Regions from separate parts of the Homo sapiens genome. Here region 1 is linked to region 2. Evidence: fine-mapped expression QTL. A gene starts in region 2. The other region holds a variant in brackets. All regions are shown on one strand. Distances are between the middles of the regions.

Region 1 (8,328 bases), 23 kb before region 2:
TTCCAAAAAGCACCTGATTTTGTCTACCAAGGATTCAACACTATTTTGTCCTGTTAAGGGCACCCTGTCTCACTGATCATTAAAAAACCAACCTAGAAATGTCTTTGAACAGTCAGTAAAAGCCCACATCTTTTGAACAACTACTGTATACAGACACTGGCCGGGAGCTACGGGAGATATAAGGGAGTAAAAAAGACTCTGACTTCTTTTGGTTGAGACACAAACCAGGGACAAATCACAGATTTTGATGGCTGGGGTTCCAATATTGTGTTTGAGTCCCAGCTCATCCTGTAGCCACTGAGCACTTAGGCCCCCATTTCCTTCTCTGTAATATGGTGATAAAAACAACATCAACTCATGGGGTTCTTGGGAGAATTAAATGGATAACCCCATAAAGCAGTTACAGCGGTAGGTGGCACATGGTAAGTGTTCAATAAATGTTGTCTGATCATCTGAGAAATGTACTCATGCAAGAAGCCGCTAACACCAGGAGATGCCACACCAGCGAGGTCACATGATACCTAATAGCCAAGGCCAAACGAATAGTAGAGAGGGTATATTTGCTGCAGGAGAATAGGGTATGAGTGTTCTTGGGGGCACCAGGACCAACTGGGCCAGCTTCCAGAGTGTCTGAGACTTCTGTCACCCAAATGACTGGTTTGAGCCACAGCCCACCCAGGGATGAATGTGGAGCAGCCTGGACCTCAGCACACTTGGGGTTTCTGTCCCCCAAAAAGAACTTGGAGTCTTACGGGTGTGGGGGATGGCTGGTCAGGAAGGGATTCGCAGAGTGGAGTCACTGGCGCCAGGGACTCAAAGATGGACAGGATTCCCAAAGGTCAGGGGCAGAGATAATAAAGAGGCCAGCCTAAGGGCAGCCCGTCTACTCTTTCTAGAGGCCCCCTTGATGGTCACCTCTTCCAGGGTTGAACATTATGCACTGTTGGGAACGGATTCCTCTCTCTCCCTGAAATTCCCCAGCTGCTGCTCAAACAGAAACCTACTTTTGCTTGCCTGGCTCTTGGTGGAGCTGTTACCTACATCCCCTCTCCTAAAGAGCAGCCCTTCTCAGAGCTGAGGGCTGAGGTCCCATCAGCCCTTCCCTCGGGCTTTCTCCTCTCCCGAGGACCATGTTCTGCTGGCCTCCTGGAAGCCATGACTCGCCTTTGTGCACGGCCCAGCACAGAGAAGCCAACCCTCGAGGGGACTTTGAGGTCTCCCCTGGCAGGGACCCAGGCTTGTGGCTGCTGTGTAGTTGCTGTCTCCACCGCCTCCACCTTCCAGAGCTGTAGGGGACACAGCTGCCACTGGCACCCCTTCCCAGTTCAGCTCAGAGACTTTATTCTCAGGACCCTGGCATTCCACTCTGGGCCATCGCGGGGGATTTCAAGTGAAAAACAAAACAGAACAAAAACTGAGGAATGTCTTCCTCGGTGAAACAGAAGCCCAGCTCTGTCACTTACTAGCTGGGTGACCTGGGGAAAATTACATGACTTTTCTGTGCTTTGGTTTCCCAATGTATTAAACAAGGATAATAGTAATTTCTATTGCGCCTGTTTGGAGGAGTGAGTGAGTTGATATAAAGGATGCGTTTAAAACAGTGCCTTTTACAGCATTAGGGAACTATTGGCATGTTGTTCTTTTATAGTGGTTAAGGGTGCAGGGTACTGAATCAGGCAGACGGTGGAGACATCAATTCACCTCTCTGAGCTTCAGTTTCTTCATTTTCTTAAAATGAGGGTAATGACAGTACCTACCCGTTAGACTGTGGGAGGACCAAATGAGGTGATGCACGCTGGTGGTTTTATGTGAATGATTTAGCGCAGTCCTTGGCATGTAGTGAACCAGAAAAAGGCTTACACCTTTAAAAGAAAGAAAGAAAGAAAGAAAAATCTTGAAAGAACAAAGGAAGGAAGGGAGAGAGAGAGAGACCAAGAGAGGGAGGAGAGGAGGGAGGGAGAAAGAAAGAAGGAGAGAAAGGGAGGGAGGGAGGAAGAAAGAGAGAAAGAGAGAGACAGAGAAAGAGAGAAAATAAAAGATAGAAGGAAAGAGAGAAAGGAAGGGAGGGAGGGAGGGAGGGAGGGAGGAAAGAAGGAAGGAAGAAAGGAAGGAAGGAATGAAGGAAGGAAGGAGAAAGGGAAGGAAGACAGGGAGGGAGGAAGAAAACCCTGGCTGAAAAAATAATGACCAAACTCATTAGAGATCTAAGACAGGCAACCCAGCCTCCAAAATGCAGCTGGCTACAACAGCGCCTCCAGTCTGCAGCCTCCTCCAGAGTGGTCTCCACGCTGGGTTATCCTCATGCCCTCTTACTGTTCCTGGTCTGGGGTCTTGCACATCATAGCCACTGAAGTAAACAAGTGTCAGATGAACAGCATGTTTAAACATGTCTACTCAGCCCCCAGGAAAACAGGGGAGGAAAAAGAATCCTTTTAGAATGTTACTCTACTTGTTCAACACACAGGGTTCTACCATCCAAGAGGTGGCTGTGTGAGGGTGGCAGAGATGGCATGAACCAGCCACCGGGCTGTTGAGGGTAGTAGTGAGTGCCCAGGCTTTGGCTTTTGAGAGACTGTGGTTCATGTCTTGATTCTGCCCATTTCTGGCTGCAGGATTTGGGCAAGTTTCTTAATCTTTCTAAGCCTCAGTTTCCCTCATCATAAAATGGAAATTGTAAAACTTACCTCATTAAGGAGTTGTGAGAATTAAACGAATTATTTGTAAGATACAGACAGTGCCTGGTAGAGGTAAGTGCTTCATATATTTGGGCTGTTGTTGTCAACCCTGGATTTCCCAAAAACCTGAAGACAGCAGGGCATTCTGTACATTAAGTTTTAGGGAAAATCTTGTACCTTCTTAGTTTTTCTGGTTGTGGGGCAGGAGAAAAGGGGTGTGGTCATGACCTGAGCCCCTGGAGTGCTTCTGCCCAGCATCAATGACATGTGCCCACCCTGCTTTGGGGTCATTTTGCTCCTTTGGCTGCAACTGTCATTCCCCTCACCATCAACACCCCCTCCTTCTGCAGAGACGGTGAACACGCTGGCATTGTTCCTTCCAGCCAATGGCTTCTCTCTGGCCTGTGATTGGTACCCCCCAGATTCCAGTGCAATCCAGGCATCCCAGCTATGTCAGCGTGACTCAAATTGTGTGTGCCTGACATCCACATGGCCCCGTAGAAGGCTGGCTCCAGCAAGAGGGCATTTGGAACGCTGCTGAATGCTTGATGGCTGCCAAGTTATCTTTTTGGGGTTAGGCCATTAAAGTTGCATCTGATGTTTTATGGAACAAACCAAGATAAACTGCATGTTGAAATCCATGAGACATGAAGAAGATTTTTACAGATGAAGACACAACGGCAGCTAAAGTTAGGTGGGTTTTTTCCCCCTCAAAACTTTGTAGTTTTTCTTCCACACGGCTATTTCAAAGCAGAAGCAATCCTCAAAAGTGAAGCATAGACGCTGCCATAGTAACAGGTTCAGCGAGACCTGGAGCTGCTGGGGCACCTGGAAAGAACATGGATCTGTCTCTCCGCTCTCATCATCCCAACCAGAGTCGTCTGCTCCATTCCTAAATTCTCTACTCAACTTTCCTCACGTACCCTGACGAAACGTCCTTTTCTGTGCAAACCTAAATTTGTCCTGGTGCTTTTTAATGCATCTCCCAGCCCTCTCTATTCTCATGCTACTTGCAAGCGACCAAGGAGCCAGTCACTCCACCCAATTCCTGGCCCTCTGGGCACACTGTGCACCTTCCGACTTTTGTTCCTGGGCTTTGTCACCTTTGTCCAGAGCACCCTTCCTTTCCACTTCTGCCCACTGTTCATCCAAGCAAATGGTCCAAGAAGAGTCCACTCAAATAACAGGCATACTGCCAGGCAACGATACGATAAGAAAGATTAGCAGACCAAGTATCAGAGCCTTTTAACCCTTGAACCCAGGACTCAAGCACACCTCCTCCAGGCAGCCTTCTCAGTCATCCCCTCGACTGAACCCCTCAGTCTCCCTCTTTTTGCACTCCCTTAACCTTCAATTGACCCCCGTCTCCCTAAGTAAAAGCTGTGTGTGTGTCTGCTTCCCTCCAGACTGTAAGGCTGTTGAAGATGGAGACCTCAAGATGCTCATTCTCTTTCTTGGACCACTTAATTGATAGAATCAGGACTTCAAGCTCTTTCTCCTTCCACTGGCACTTGAATGCATAAAGAAGCAAGTGCGACGATGCTGATGGCACATTATGTATACAAGCAAACAACTGGTGAAGGAGGGCCCCCAAATGCCATTAATTATGGGAAGTCGTAAAATTCTGGCATATCCTTGCTATTGAAAAGCATTCTGCACTTAAAATGAATGAAGTAGATGTATATGTACTGGCATAGCAAGACTCCAAGAGATGATTATTCACTGAAAAAAATCAAGTCACAGAACAATATGTTTGGCATGATCCTATTTAGGTTTTTAAACTGTTAAGTTCCAAAAAGAAAACCATCAGGATCTCTCTGATGTGA[C/T]TGAGGAAACGATGAGTTATCTGAAAATGTTGGGAAAGTGAGAAATCATAAAAAATGAATCATACATACCATACACATTTTATTTAAAGTTAATGTACATTTATTTACCAATCTCTTGGTAGCAGTCCAAAGCTTTTTGAGTCTGGGTCTGTTGATTAGAGCTGTATACCATTTTACTGAGTATGTAAGCCATACTCAGAATGCATTGTCTAAGACTTCTAATTTCATTTTCTTTAAAGTGGGATGACAAAAAGTTATGGATACAGTAATTTGAGCACAGGATCCTAAATTATGCTATGTAGAGGCTGTGTGATCTACATAAGTTAAATATCATTGTTGAGCATAAATTTCCAATCTGCAACACAGGGCATTAATAATATACCCACAGGTAACTGATAGGAAGAATGATGATCCGGTGTGTACAATCCCTGGTGCTCAATAAGGATGAACTAGTCTATTAACTATTTTACTTTCCGCTCATTATAGGACAGTAAAAAGACAAAGCAGCAGCAGGCCATCATCCTACCTGGGACTCTGGCCACCTCCTCTTTCTGCCTTAAAGATGCTCAAAGTCTGGGCCGGGCACGGTGATTCACCGCTGTAATCCCAGCACTTTGGGAGGCTGAGGTGGGCGGATCACCCGAAGTGAGAACTTTGAGACCAGCCTGGCCAACATGGTGAAACCCCAGTCTCTACTAAAAATACAAAAATTAGCTGGCGTGGTGGTGCATGCCTGTAGTCTCAGGTACTTGGGAGGCTGAGGCAGGAGAACACTTGAACGCAGGAGGTGGAGGTTGCAATGAGCCAAGATTGCACCATTGCAACCTAGCCTGGGCGACAGAGCGAGACTCCTCCATCTCAAAAAAAAAAATGCTGAAAATCCATAGATACCAGGGTGAAATTAGTATCCAATATGAAGTGTGAATGGACGAGAACCTGCTATATGCCAGATCTGTACTAGGTGGAATGGCAGCATACTGCTCAGTAAGTTCATTTTAGTTCATTTTTGTTCCAAAGGACATTATGATCTAATGACAAAGGTTTGATATACATGGGAAGATGATAGTAATAATAATATACAGTATCAATGAGGATATCGAGGATATTTTCAGTTACAGATGATTTAAAAAACTAACAAATTAGCTTAAGTACCAATTTATTTTTTGAAACAGGGCTTCGTATGTTGCCTAGGCTGGAGTGCAGTGGCTACTCATAGGTATGATCATAGTGCACTATATCTTCAAACTCCTGGCCTTAAGCAATCCTTCTGCCTCAGCCTCCTGAGTAGTTGGGACTACAGGTGCGTGCCACCCCACCTGACTTAAAAGTATGCATTTTTTTTGGCCGGCCGCGGTGGCTCACGCCTATGATCCCAGCACTTTGGGAGGCCGAGGCGGGCGGATCACAAGGTCAGGAAATCAAGACCATCCTGCTAACATGGTGAAACCCCGTCTCTACTAAAAAATACAAAAAATTAGCCGGGCGTCGTGACGGGCGCCTGTAGTCCCAGCTACTCGGGAGGCTGAGGCAGGAGAATGGCATGAACCCAGGAGGTGGAGCTTGCAGTGAGCCGAGATCACGCCACCGCACTCCAGCCTGGCCACAGAGCGAGACTCCGTCTCAAAAAAAAAAAAAAAAGTATGCATTTTTATTTATTTTTTTAGAGACAAGATCTCACTATGTTGCTCAGGCTGGACTCAAACTCCTGAGCTCAAGTGATCCTCCCACCTCAGCCTCTTCAGTAGCTGGGACTACAGGCAACTATATGCATGCACAACCGTGCTTGGCTCCCCAAATTTTTAATTGGCTCAAGCAACGAAAATTCCAAAGGTCAATGGGACTTCAGGAGATAGCCGATCAAGCCTCTGGTTCTAGTTCCTTTGCTCTTCTCAGTTCTTTCTTACTACATGTGTCAGCTTTGTCCTCAAGTTGACTTCCCTCTAGTTAAAAAAAAAAAAAAAAAAAAAAACCTTGGCAATTCCAATTCCAAGCTTCATACCTGAGGCCACGTCATCTGCATCCTGCAAGCCACTCTAAACTAGTCAAGTGCATGTACCCAACTCTGACTCAATCACTCTGCAAGATGGATGGGATTATGTTGATCATCCTGGGCCAATCAGGGATTACCCCAAGATCTGGTGAAGGAGTCAATTTAATGTGTGCTTCTTTCATGTGTCAGGCATTGTGCTACTTGCCTTTACATGGATTATCACATTTATCCTCGTAACAACCCTATGAAGTAAGTGCTACTAGCAGTTCCTGATTATAGTTGAAGAAACTGAGGCCCAGAGAGGTTAAGTAACTTTTCTGTGGTTGCACAGCCAATAAGTGGTAGAGCCAGGATTCATACTTTGGCCCTCTGTCTCCAGACCCCACATTCATAACCACTAGACCACAAAGTCTGCCAAGGGGCAAGTCCCAAGGTGATGGCTGATGTGCAGTGCAAACATCACTCTCTGGGTAAATTGGGAGGGAGGAGCACTTGGCCTGGTGTGATGATGACAGGTTAGGGCTTGAGCTAGGTCTTAAGCAAGGGTGGGAAAGTAAGATCAAGTGAACTTTCAGAGATGGGAATCATGTAGCAGAAATAACAAACACAGTGGGATCAGACAGACTGTCAAGTTTGCTGCTAATAGCTGAGTGAACTTCATCAAATTATTCACTTCTCTGAGCTCATAAGTGAAATAAGAAGCCATGAGAGTGAATCAAAGGCCCACGGGAAAATCTAAAGTGAGAAGTAGGCTGAGAATAGGATCCTGGAAACCCTGAACAGGACCAGTAAAAGTCAAGCCAAGTCCTATGGGAAAATAGAAAGTCCCTTGGAAGGGTACACATACAAAGGATTCGCTATAGTGACAAATCTAGAGAAAGTATTCTAATCTTCCTTACAATTTCCTGCCAGCCCAGGAAACAAGAAAGAGGAAGATAAAGATGAAGCCTCAGGCATTATAAGACTATACTAATAAAGATAGCTTTTTACAATCATCCAATTCCGGAGCTGGATAGGACAACAGACAACCTGCTTATTGTATAGATAAGAAAGGAGACACATTTTGAACACTTATATGAAGAGGCATATAGGCAAAGTGCCTGGCACAGTGCCTCATAAACAGTAGGTACTCAATAGTGTAAAATATTATTGGTGAATAATAGTTATTATTTTCATAAGGGACTTATCCAAGGCCTCGAAAGTTGATTAGTGACCAAAAAAGATAAGAATCCATGTCTTTTAATGTCTAGTGCAGTTTCTTCATCACTCTGAGCTTTTTTCTCTGATGAAAGGTGCCAGATGCCACTGAAAGAAGGGAGAAGAAATAGCAACCTAAAGTAGGAAAAACTATCAAAGAAGGAAAATGTTGGAATAAACACTGAACAAGTAGTTTGAAAACCAAGATTATGAATCTTGGTCTGCCATTAACTGGCTCAATGACTTAACCAGCTCAGGCCCCAGTTTACTCATCTATAAAAGTAGAGATTTGAATAAGATCATCTTGGTTTCCTTCCAACTCTGAAATTCTATGAAAGTAGGTTCCTCTCTTAACATTGCAGTAGCCTTCTTTATAAAAGATATAAATACATTCTAGGAAAAAAATGTATAGGGACAAGGCCACATAAAAAACTGAAAGTAAGAAAAGGCATGAGAGTTGGCTTCAAATATCTGGAAAAGCTTCTAGTCATATATGTGTCAGGTATATGTTGTGTGAGGCTCCAGATAACAGGAATAAGATCCAGGAGTAAAAGCAACACAGAGGCAAGTTTCTGTCCAATACAGAACAGATTTTTTTCCGTGTATTTTGGAGCTCTGCTATTAGGTGCATATATGTTCA
Region 2 (8,328 bases):
GAAGAAACGCCACCAGATCGTATCTCCTGTAAAGACAGCCTTGACTCAAGCATGCGTTAGAGCACGTGTCAGGGCCGACCGTGCTGGCGGCGACTTCACCGCAGTCGGCTCCCAGGGAGAAAGCCTGGCGAGTGAGGCGCGAAACCGGAGGGGTCGGCGAGGATGCGGGCGAAGGACCGAGCGTGGAGGCCTCATGCCTCCGGGGAAAGGAAGGGGTGGTGGTGTTTGCGCAGGGGGAGCGAGGGGGAGCCGGACCTAATCCCTCACTCGCCCCCTCCCCCTCCCGGGCCATTTCCTAGAAAGCTGCATCGGTGTGGCCACGCTCAGCGCAGACACCTCGGGCGGCTTGTCAGCAGATGCAGGGGCGAGGAAGCGGGTTTTTCCTGCGTGGCCGCTGGCCGCGGGGGAACCGCTGGGAGCCCTGCCCCCGGCCTGCGGCGGCCCTAGACGCTGCACCGCGTCGCCCCACGGCGCCCGAAGAGCCCCCAGAAACACGATGGTTTCTGCTCGAGGATCACATTCTATCCCTCCAGAGAAGCACCCCCCTTCCTTCCTAATACCCACCTCTCCCTCCCTCTTCTTCCTCTGCACACACTCTGCAGGGGGGGGCAGAAGGGACGTTGTTCTGGTCCCTTTAATCGGGGCTTTCGAAACAGCTTCGAAGTTATCAGGAACACAGACTTCAGGGACATGACCTTTATCTCTGGGTATGCGAGGTTGCTATTTTCTAAAATCACCCCCTCCCTTATTTTTCACTTAAGGGACCTATTTCTAAATTGTCTGAGGTCACCCCATCTTCAGATAATCTACCCTACATTCCTGGATCTTAAATACAAGGGCAGGAGGATTAGGATCCGTTTTGAAGAAGCCAAAGTTGGAGGGTCGTATTTTGGCGTGCTACACCTACAGAATGAGTGAAATTAGAGGGCAGAAATAGGAGTCGGTAGTTTTTTGTGGGTTGCCCTGTCCGGGGCCCCTGGCATGCAGGGCTGGATGGAGGGAGAGGGGTGGGGGGTGGCGGGGGACCGCGTTTGAAGTTGGGTCGGGCCAGCTGCTGTTCTCCTTAATAACGAGAGGGGAAAAGGAGGGAGGGAGGGAGAGATTGAAAGGAGGAGGGGAGGACCGGGAGGGGAGGAAAGGGGAGGAGGAACCAGAGCGGGGAGCGCGGGGAGAGGGAGGAGAGCTAACTGCCCAGCCAGCTTGCGTCACCGCTTCAGAGCGGAGAAGAGCGAGCAGGGGAGAGCGAGACCAGTTTTAAGGGGAGGACCGGTGCGAGTGAGGCAGCCCCGAGGCTCTGCTCGCCCACCACCCAATCCTCGCCTCCCTTCTGCTCCACCTTCTCTCTCTGCCCTCACCTCTCCCCCGAAAACCCCCTATTTAGCCAAAGGAAGGAGGTCAGGGGAACGCTCTCCCCTCCCCTTCCAAAAAACAAAAACAGAAAAACCTTTTTCCAGGCCGGGGAAAGCAGGAGGGAGAGGGGCCGCCGGGCTGGCCATGGAGCTGCTGTGCCACGAGGTGGACCCGGTCCGCAGGGCCGTGCGGGACCGCAACCTGCTCCGAGACGACCGCGTCCTGCAGAACCTGCTCACCATCGAGGAGCGCTACCTTCCGCAGTGCTCCTACTTCAAGTGCGTGCAGAAGGACATCCAACCCTACATGCGCAGAATGGTGGCCACCTGGATGCTGGAGGTAGGTCGGGGGGTGGCGCTCGCCAGGAGCCAGGACCCCTCCGGATGCTCGGGTCCCCGGCCGGAGCCCTAAACCTGGGAGAGGGCAATCCCCGCGCCGGCCTCCCGGCTCCTGTGCGGGAGTTTACCGCGCGCCTTCTGGCGAGACGCGTGGCTTTATTTCTGTTCCTCTCCAGATAAACTGGGGAGGCAGAGGGGGGAGGAAAATCTGGGAGAAGCGAGGCTGTCCTGGGCGGGGGTAGGGGAGCATCCCGCGCGCGTGTTCCTGCATGTGGCTGCCTCTTCTTCCCACCCCCCTCGCGACCTGTCTTTTGCGAAGCCGCCGCGGCTGCTTGCGCTGCGGCCAGGAAGAGAGTCGGGGCCTGAAATCGGGACCCCGAGTAGAAAGGCAACCCCCCCCAAAAGGCCAGAGCAAATTCGTCTTGGCCTCAGGTCCCCGCCTGTGGTCGCGACTCCGCGCTGGCACTTCACCGGGGAGGTGGAGGGAGGAGGGAGAAGGAGAGAAACGGGGAATTCGGGAGCCCCGGAAGTCCCATTGAAGAAACGCGTGTTTCAGGGGAACCCAAAAGAACCGCTTCTTGCCCCTCACTCCAAGTCTTTGCCCAGCGAGCCGTGTGCCCACGTATGCACAGCTCTGGACCTGCCGTGGTTTCGCCATGTTGCTTTGCAAACTCCCTTTGGAAAGGCTGGGAAACGTCGCCCGCTTACCCTCGCACCCCATTATCCCGGCCACCCCACTTCTAATCGTGCCCTCTCCCCCACCCCCCACCTCACGAAGATTACTTACAGTTTGGTTTTCCAGCTTCCTCGGTGCGGAGATTTGGGTGGGGTAGGAAGGGGGGGAGGGGGTGTGTGTAGGGGGGATACCGGGTCACCCCTGAAGGAGAGGTGGGAGCCCCCCGTGCCTCTTTCCAGGGCTCTCTGCTCCCGTCTTTCCCCTCGCTCGTCACCGCGTTCCCTAGTTTCTGTCCTTGTGGGCCGCAGCCGGACACTCCCGCCGCGGCGCTCACCCCTTCAAGTTTCCTCCCGGGATCCAAAGCCCCAGGGGTCGGAATACAGACCTTTCTGGCACCCGAAACCTCTGTTTCGGGAAGCCTGGCTCTTCTTTGGGGTTTTCACGCCAAAAGGGCTTTTCTAGGATATTTCCTCGATTTTTAATTATTTTTTGAAACCATCCCCCCCTGCTCCGACTCCAGCTGCCGAGGCTGCGGCGCTCTTCCTCCTCTCCTCCCTCCCCCTCTCTTCCCCACCTCTCCTCACCCGCCCCCCCAAAAGCGGCCCCTGGGCCGCAGGGACCCCCCCAGACATTTTTTCCAATTGTCGGGAATGATAGAGGAGGATCTGGGGATCCGGATGAGACCAAGAAGTGGACCCCCGGAGCCTCCAGAATATTTTTATTGATTTTTTGAAAAGATGACGAAATCCAAAAAAGAGTGAGTGAGTTAGAGTGCGCGAAGGAGTAGCCAAAGGGAGCGTCGCGGAGCTGCCGCGGCTGCTGCGCACTTCTCCGACTCCCCGTTTTGGAGCTGTAGTTCACCCCCTTTTATAGGATCCCTGGGAATACCAAAGCACTGATGGGCTATTCTGATTCACTCCAGTTTCCTCATCTTTGTTCTTTATTCTTATCACGCATTCTGGTCCCCTCCCCCTCCCACAAAAAAAAATTAATTTTTTTTGTTTCGATAGATTACGCTTTTTTATTCTTTTTCTCTTTTGCTGATGCTATGCTCTCCACCCCCGCCCCCCAACCCTTTCCCACTCCCATTATAGGTCTGTGAGGAACAGAAGTGCGAAGAAGAGGTCTTCCCTCTGGCCATGAATTACCTGGACCGTTTCTTGGCTGGGGTCCCGACTCCGAAGTCCCATCTGCAACTCCTGGGTGCTGTCTGCATGTTCCTGGCCTCCAAACTCAAAGAGACCAGCCCGCTGACCGCGGAGAAGCTGTGCATTTACACCGACAACTCCATCAAGCCTCAGGAGCTGCTGGTAATGACCGGCCCCTTCCTCCCTTCCTTTCTGCGATTCCCGCTTTCCCCTGGCCAACAATATGCCTTCTATCACCACTGCCAGAGCAAATTCTTGGGATCCAGAATGACCCCACCAATAGAATTTACCCACTTATGGGCGATAGCTCATTTAATAGGAAACCACTGTTTATTTTTTGTGTGTTCCTACTATGTGCCCAGGCTCCGTGCCCAGCACTGAGGCTACATCTGTGAATAAGATCCTCATGGAGATTTGGGTTGGTGAGACTCATTTGCAATTGTGTATGCATGTGTGTAGGGGACGCATGGAATATTTTAATTAACAGTGATAATATTTTAATTAAATTCCAAATTTCCAAAAATAGTCTGAGAACGTGTTCACATGATAGGTATGTGGCTGTGGTGTCTCCTAAAAACTTGGAGTTCAAAGGTAATGCCCTCTATATCTACAAAGTCTCAAGATACCAACACATAATAGCTGTTCACTAAATATCAGTTCATTGACTTTTGAGCAAAGTCAAAATGTGGCCTTTCACTGAAGGAGTCCGAGGCCTGGGTTCCTACCTCCAGTGGGACTGTGACCTCTGTACAACCCCAGGGATCCTGTCTTATCTCTGCTTTTCTACCAGGGAACCTTTTTCCCACCTGATCTAACTCCTTTTCCCTGCAGCTTGACATATAAGACGACCATATTGCAGCTGTACCGCATGGAATAGCGGCTCCAAGGCCCACCTTCGGTGGTTTGCACACCCCTCTTTGCACTGTTCAGAAAAGCACCCCCTCCTTCCCGCCCCTCCCCCTCCTCACTGGTAGGGCCCGCACAAAGTCCACAGGGCTGAGGCTGGCTTCTTGAACTGAGCTCTTTGTGAGGAGCCTTCCTTTCTGGGGCTCTGCTGCCATCTAGTGGAAGACATGCACAAGGTTGGGGGAGGAATTGCCGAGAATGTGGAGAGGGGCCTGAATGACTTCACCTTTGAACCGCTGCCAGGTTTTAGCTGCTTCTGGTTTGGTCCGAGAGGCCTAGAAAGGTGCTTTCTTCTGGGAGATCTGCTTCCTTTAATAACGGTGCAAGACCAGTGGTTCGTACTCGCATTACCCTGTGAAGAGGAAGGGCTGGCATTTCAAGCCATCTTTGAAGATGATGGTGGTTTAGTAGTTTATTGGGGTGCTTTACCCCGGCTGTACACAGAAAGCCAAGGCAGATTTTAAAGCTTATGAAGAAAACATTGTTAGAATTGGGAACCAATTTGTTTTTCTCATGAGAGAGCAGGAAAAATCATCTTCATATGGTTCATTTGTTTCGAGAGGATGGTGAATTGAGATGTTCTTCAGGACACCCAAATCTTTCCAGGACTAGCCAAGCAATATATTGCTACAAACAAACTTGGCTTTTTCCTATTCCCTTTATCCCAGAAGTTGGGATTTGGAAGAGTCCTATTTTACAAATGAGAAGGCTGAGGCCTGGGAGGGAAAGGGAATCACCCCCAGCCCCACAGCTGTGGGACTGGTGCTCTGGTTGCTGGTTTAGCAAATGAAAGAGATTCCAGGTTCTCCAGGTGAATGGGAGAGAGGGTGCATTGGCAAACAGGCCCTGCCTCTCATTCTTCTGATGACAGCTCAGTGGATAGGCATATTTTCTGGTAGCACATACGATATTTTTAATGTTTTATTTTGGACCGTTTCCCTTTGAGCACAGTTTCCCGTAAGTATCTCAGTGAAAGAGGGAAACAAGGTTCTTTTTCAGGTGGGTTGCTGGTGAGAGACCCAAGAGACAGGGTTGTGTGGTCCCCACACTTGCACTGAGGGATGCTGTGACACTGAGCAGGCACCCTCACCTTGCCCCAGATCACCTCCATCTGCAAAATGAGGTTGCTAATGACCATGTGGTCCTTTAGTCATGATGACAATGGCCTGTGAAACATTTAGGGGAAAGGGCTGAGTGTCACATCCCCAGAATTTCTGCCTGATATGTAAAAGGGGAGTTTGAGCAGCAGAGAGATAAAGGCACTTTTTGGCACTAAGTAAAAGCAAGCTAATTGGTTGCCAAGGAGTTGGGCCAAGGAACCTTATTTTGAGCTTTATCTGTGTGCATCATTTTTCCATGAAGATTAAAAAGACTATTAATTCGGTGATAGAGACATATACAATAAATTACCATGAAAGGGCCACAATGACCTTGGCCGTATCTCATTGTAGGTTCAGCTTTCTGGGTGGGCGGGAAGCAGTATTGCCTGCAAGTCAGGGTTGGGAGGGGGTAAGGGGAGCTGGAGTGGAAACGAAGTAGAAGAAAATAGAATCTTGGCAACAGCTACCTGGGCTCTCATTATTTTCAGTGGAGCCTGACATTTGAAGCATAAGAAGAGCTGTCAACAACTTCAAAGCTTCAGGGGCACATTGACAAATGGGCCCGCCTTACAATCTAGCAGCCACGTCCTAATGAGCGGCCTTAAAACTGGTCTGGAGCCCAACCCCCAGCCCCCTACACCAGGTCAGCCTGTGGAATTTAGATTCTCCTCTTCTCTTCCTGCCTTCCCCTCCAGGAGTGGGAACTGGTGGTGCTGGGGAAGTTGAAGTGGAACCTGGCAGCTGTCACTCCTCATGACTTCATTGAGCACATCTTGCGCAAGCTGCCCCAGCAGCGGGAGAAGCTGTCTCTGATCCGCAAGCATGCTCAGACCTTCATTGCTCTGTGTGCCACCGGTAAGATGAGGCTTGAGCCGGGGAGGGAGATGGGGGAGCTCTTTTGGGAGATGTCCGGGGAGAGGCAAAAGGCCGTAGGAACTTTCATTTTAGTTCAGGAGTTTGGAGGAGGGGTGGTCTTGAGTAGTCTAAAGTCTGAAGTTTCATTCCTGGGTTGCTTTTTCTTTATCTGAGCTTTATATATTCGCTTTCTCTGCTAAACTCATAAATGGTTTATGAGGACAGGTGTGGTTAAGGCAAAAAAAATTAGTGCCTGTTAAAATATTCTTTATGATGGCTAAAGTGCTCTTTGAAGATTACATATACTGCTCACTGGTTGTGTTCAAATCTTTAATCTTTTAAGGAAAAGGATGGCTTGGAGATAAGCCCAAGAGGAAATCTCGAGGGGGATGGGGGCAAATACAGGTTAAAGGAACAACGTCAAGATAAATATGCTGCCTGCCTTGATTAGTGGTAAGGGAGACCAAAGAAATTCTTTTTTTTTTTTTTTTACTGTAGGGCATTTATGGCCTTCTAGCTGTTTGCTTCTCTAGCTGTTTGCCCCACTGGGCGCGGGAGGGAACCTGGTTGGCTTTCGGTGAGGCTTTACTTTCTGAGCGCTGGGTTCTGATGCCCTCAGTTCATGTGGAGGTGTTTTGATTTTGGCCGCAGCCTTTAACGTTGCAATTCCGCCTACCACGTGGATCCCACAATTGATACATCATTCCTACTGGCCCATTTGTTTTGTAGTTTCCTAATAAACCAAAGGCAGTGGTTTGCTGTTGTCTTATTAAACAGCCTTGGCCAGTGTCTACTGGTTTTTTGTTTTTTTTTTTCTTGGTAGTGGCCATGGCAGAGACCCTGGAACCTTACTCATCCAAGGGAGAGATGTCAGGAGTTCATGTTTTGACAATCAGAAACCTTAGGTAAAAAGCTGATCACTTGGGAAGACCTTTCGGTGTGCTTCACCTCAAATTTGCCAAGAGTAGTTAAATCGCTAGGTGGACTCACGTGGTAACTTTTTTCAGGATGTTGTTACATGTTACTGGTGAGTTCTACGGAACGGATGATTATATAACGTACGATGTAGTGCATATGCCCTGTGCTCACAGTCAAAAAGTCAGGCTTTGCTGCATATCAGTGAGTGACCTTTAATTGGCTGCTTAACCTCTCTGAACCCGAGCTTCTTCATCTCCAAAACAAGCCTATTGATACATCATCCTACAGCCTTTTCAGAGCAGCTAGGAAAATTAAAATCAGAAAGAGGTGATGCACGTGGACGTGCTTTGTAAACCGAAGTGTAGGTTGGACCTTCACTAATTGTGAAAATGCTACCATCTCCGATTTTCACCCTGATTTTAACTGTTCCGACTAAAGTGGATATGATGGCTTTCCTTTTCTGGCTGCCCTTACGTGTTTCTAGCAGGACCTGTGTGTTCTGCACTTGCAGGCTTGAGTGTGGAGTCCTCCCGGCCCCCTGCCTGTTCATCTAGGGCACAGGTTTCCCCTTGCTGGTTTTCTGTAGTCCTGTTCTCCTGGATGCAGGCCAGGCCTCATGGCGTGCACATGCGCCCTGTGCCCCTTGGTGGGAGAGTCCGTTATCCTTCCTGCAGCCCTGGGGGCGGTTCTTAGGACCCCTGTGGACCCCTGCTGCCTTTTGGATAGTGGTCACTCTGGCTTCCTTCCCTTCTGCTGTCTGGCCCGGGCCCGAGAGGTCAGTCCTCCAGTGACCTGTCATTTTGTCTCCCAGGCTCGGCTGTCTCCTTCCTCTCTCATCATGATTCACTGTGGGGGAGGGGTCAGCCAGTTCTTTCTCTCTGGCCCAAGGACAGCTGACCCCCGACCCTAAACTCCCCCACTGCCCAGCTGTTGATAGCCAGAGCTCTGCTCAACACTGTCTCTTGACTAACAGATCTTTTGGGGTCTAACTGCCCCTTCCTCCTCTCTGATCTCTGATTGGGGTAGGGGTGCTGGGT

What was found. PIP is the estimated chance that this variant, and not a neighbour inherited with it, causes the effect.
Region 1: its variant is the best candidate, but not a certain one, in a credible set for the expression of CCND2-AS1 in prefrontal cortex (GTEx, PIP 0.65).

The regions. Positions count from the first base shown.
Region 1 is chr12:4,249,683-4,258,010 of GRCh38, forward strand. All of the region lies in intron 1 of CCND2-AS1 (CCND2 antisense RNA 1), which reads right to left. Among named protein-coding and RNA genes, the nearest start is that of CCND2, 20 kb to the right of the region's middle. The variant C/T (reference allele first, on the strand shown) is at 4,502.
Region 2 is chr12:4,272,547-4,280,874 of GRCh38, forward strand. It overlaps CCND2-AS1 (CCND2 antisense RNA 1), which reads right to left and starts at 3,638. Exons shown (of 2, transcript NR_125790.1): 1 at 3,513-3,638. CCND2 (cyclin D2) reads left to right here and starts at 1,216. Exons shown (of 5, transcript NM_001759.4): 1 at 1,216-1,689; 2 at 3,459-3,674; 3 at 6,214-6,373. The coding sequence starts at 1,495. RefSeq lists silencers at 407-526, 1,057-1,146, 6,285-6,477 and an enhancer at 7,659-8,328.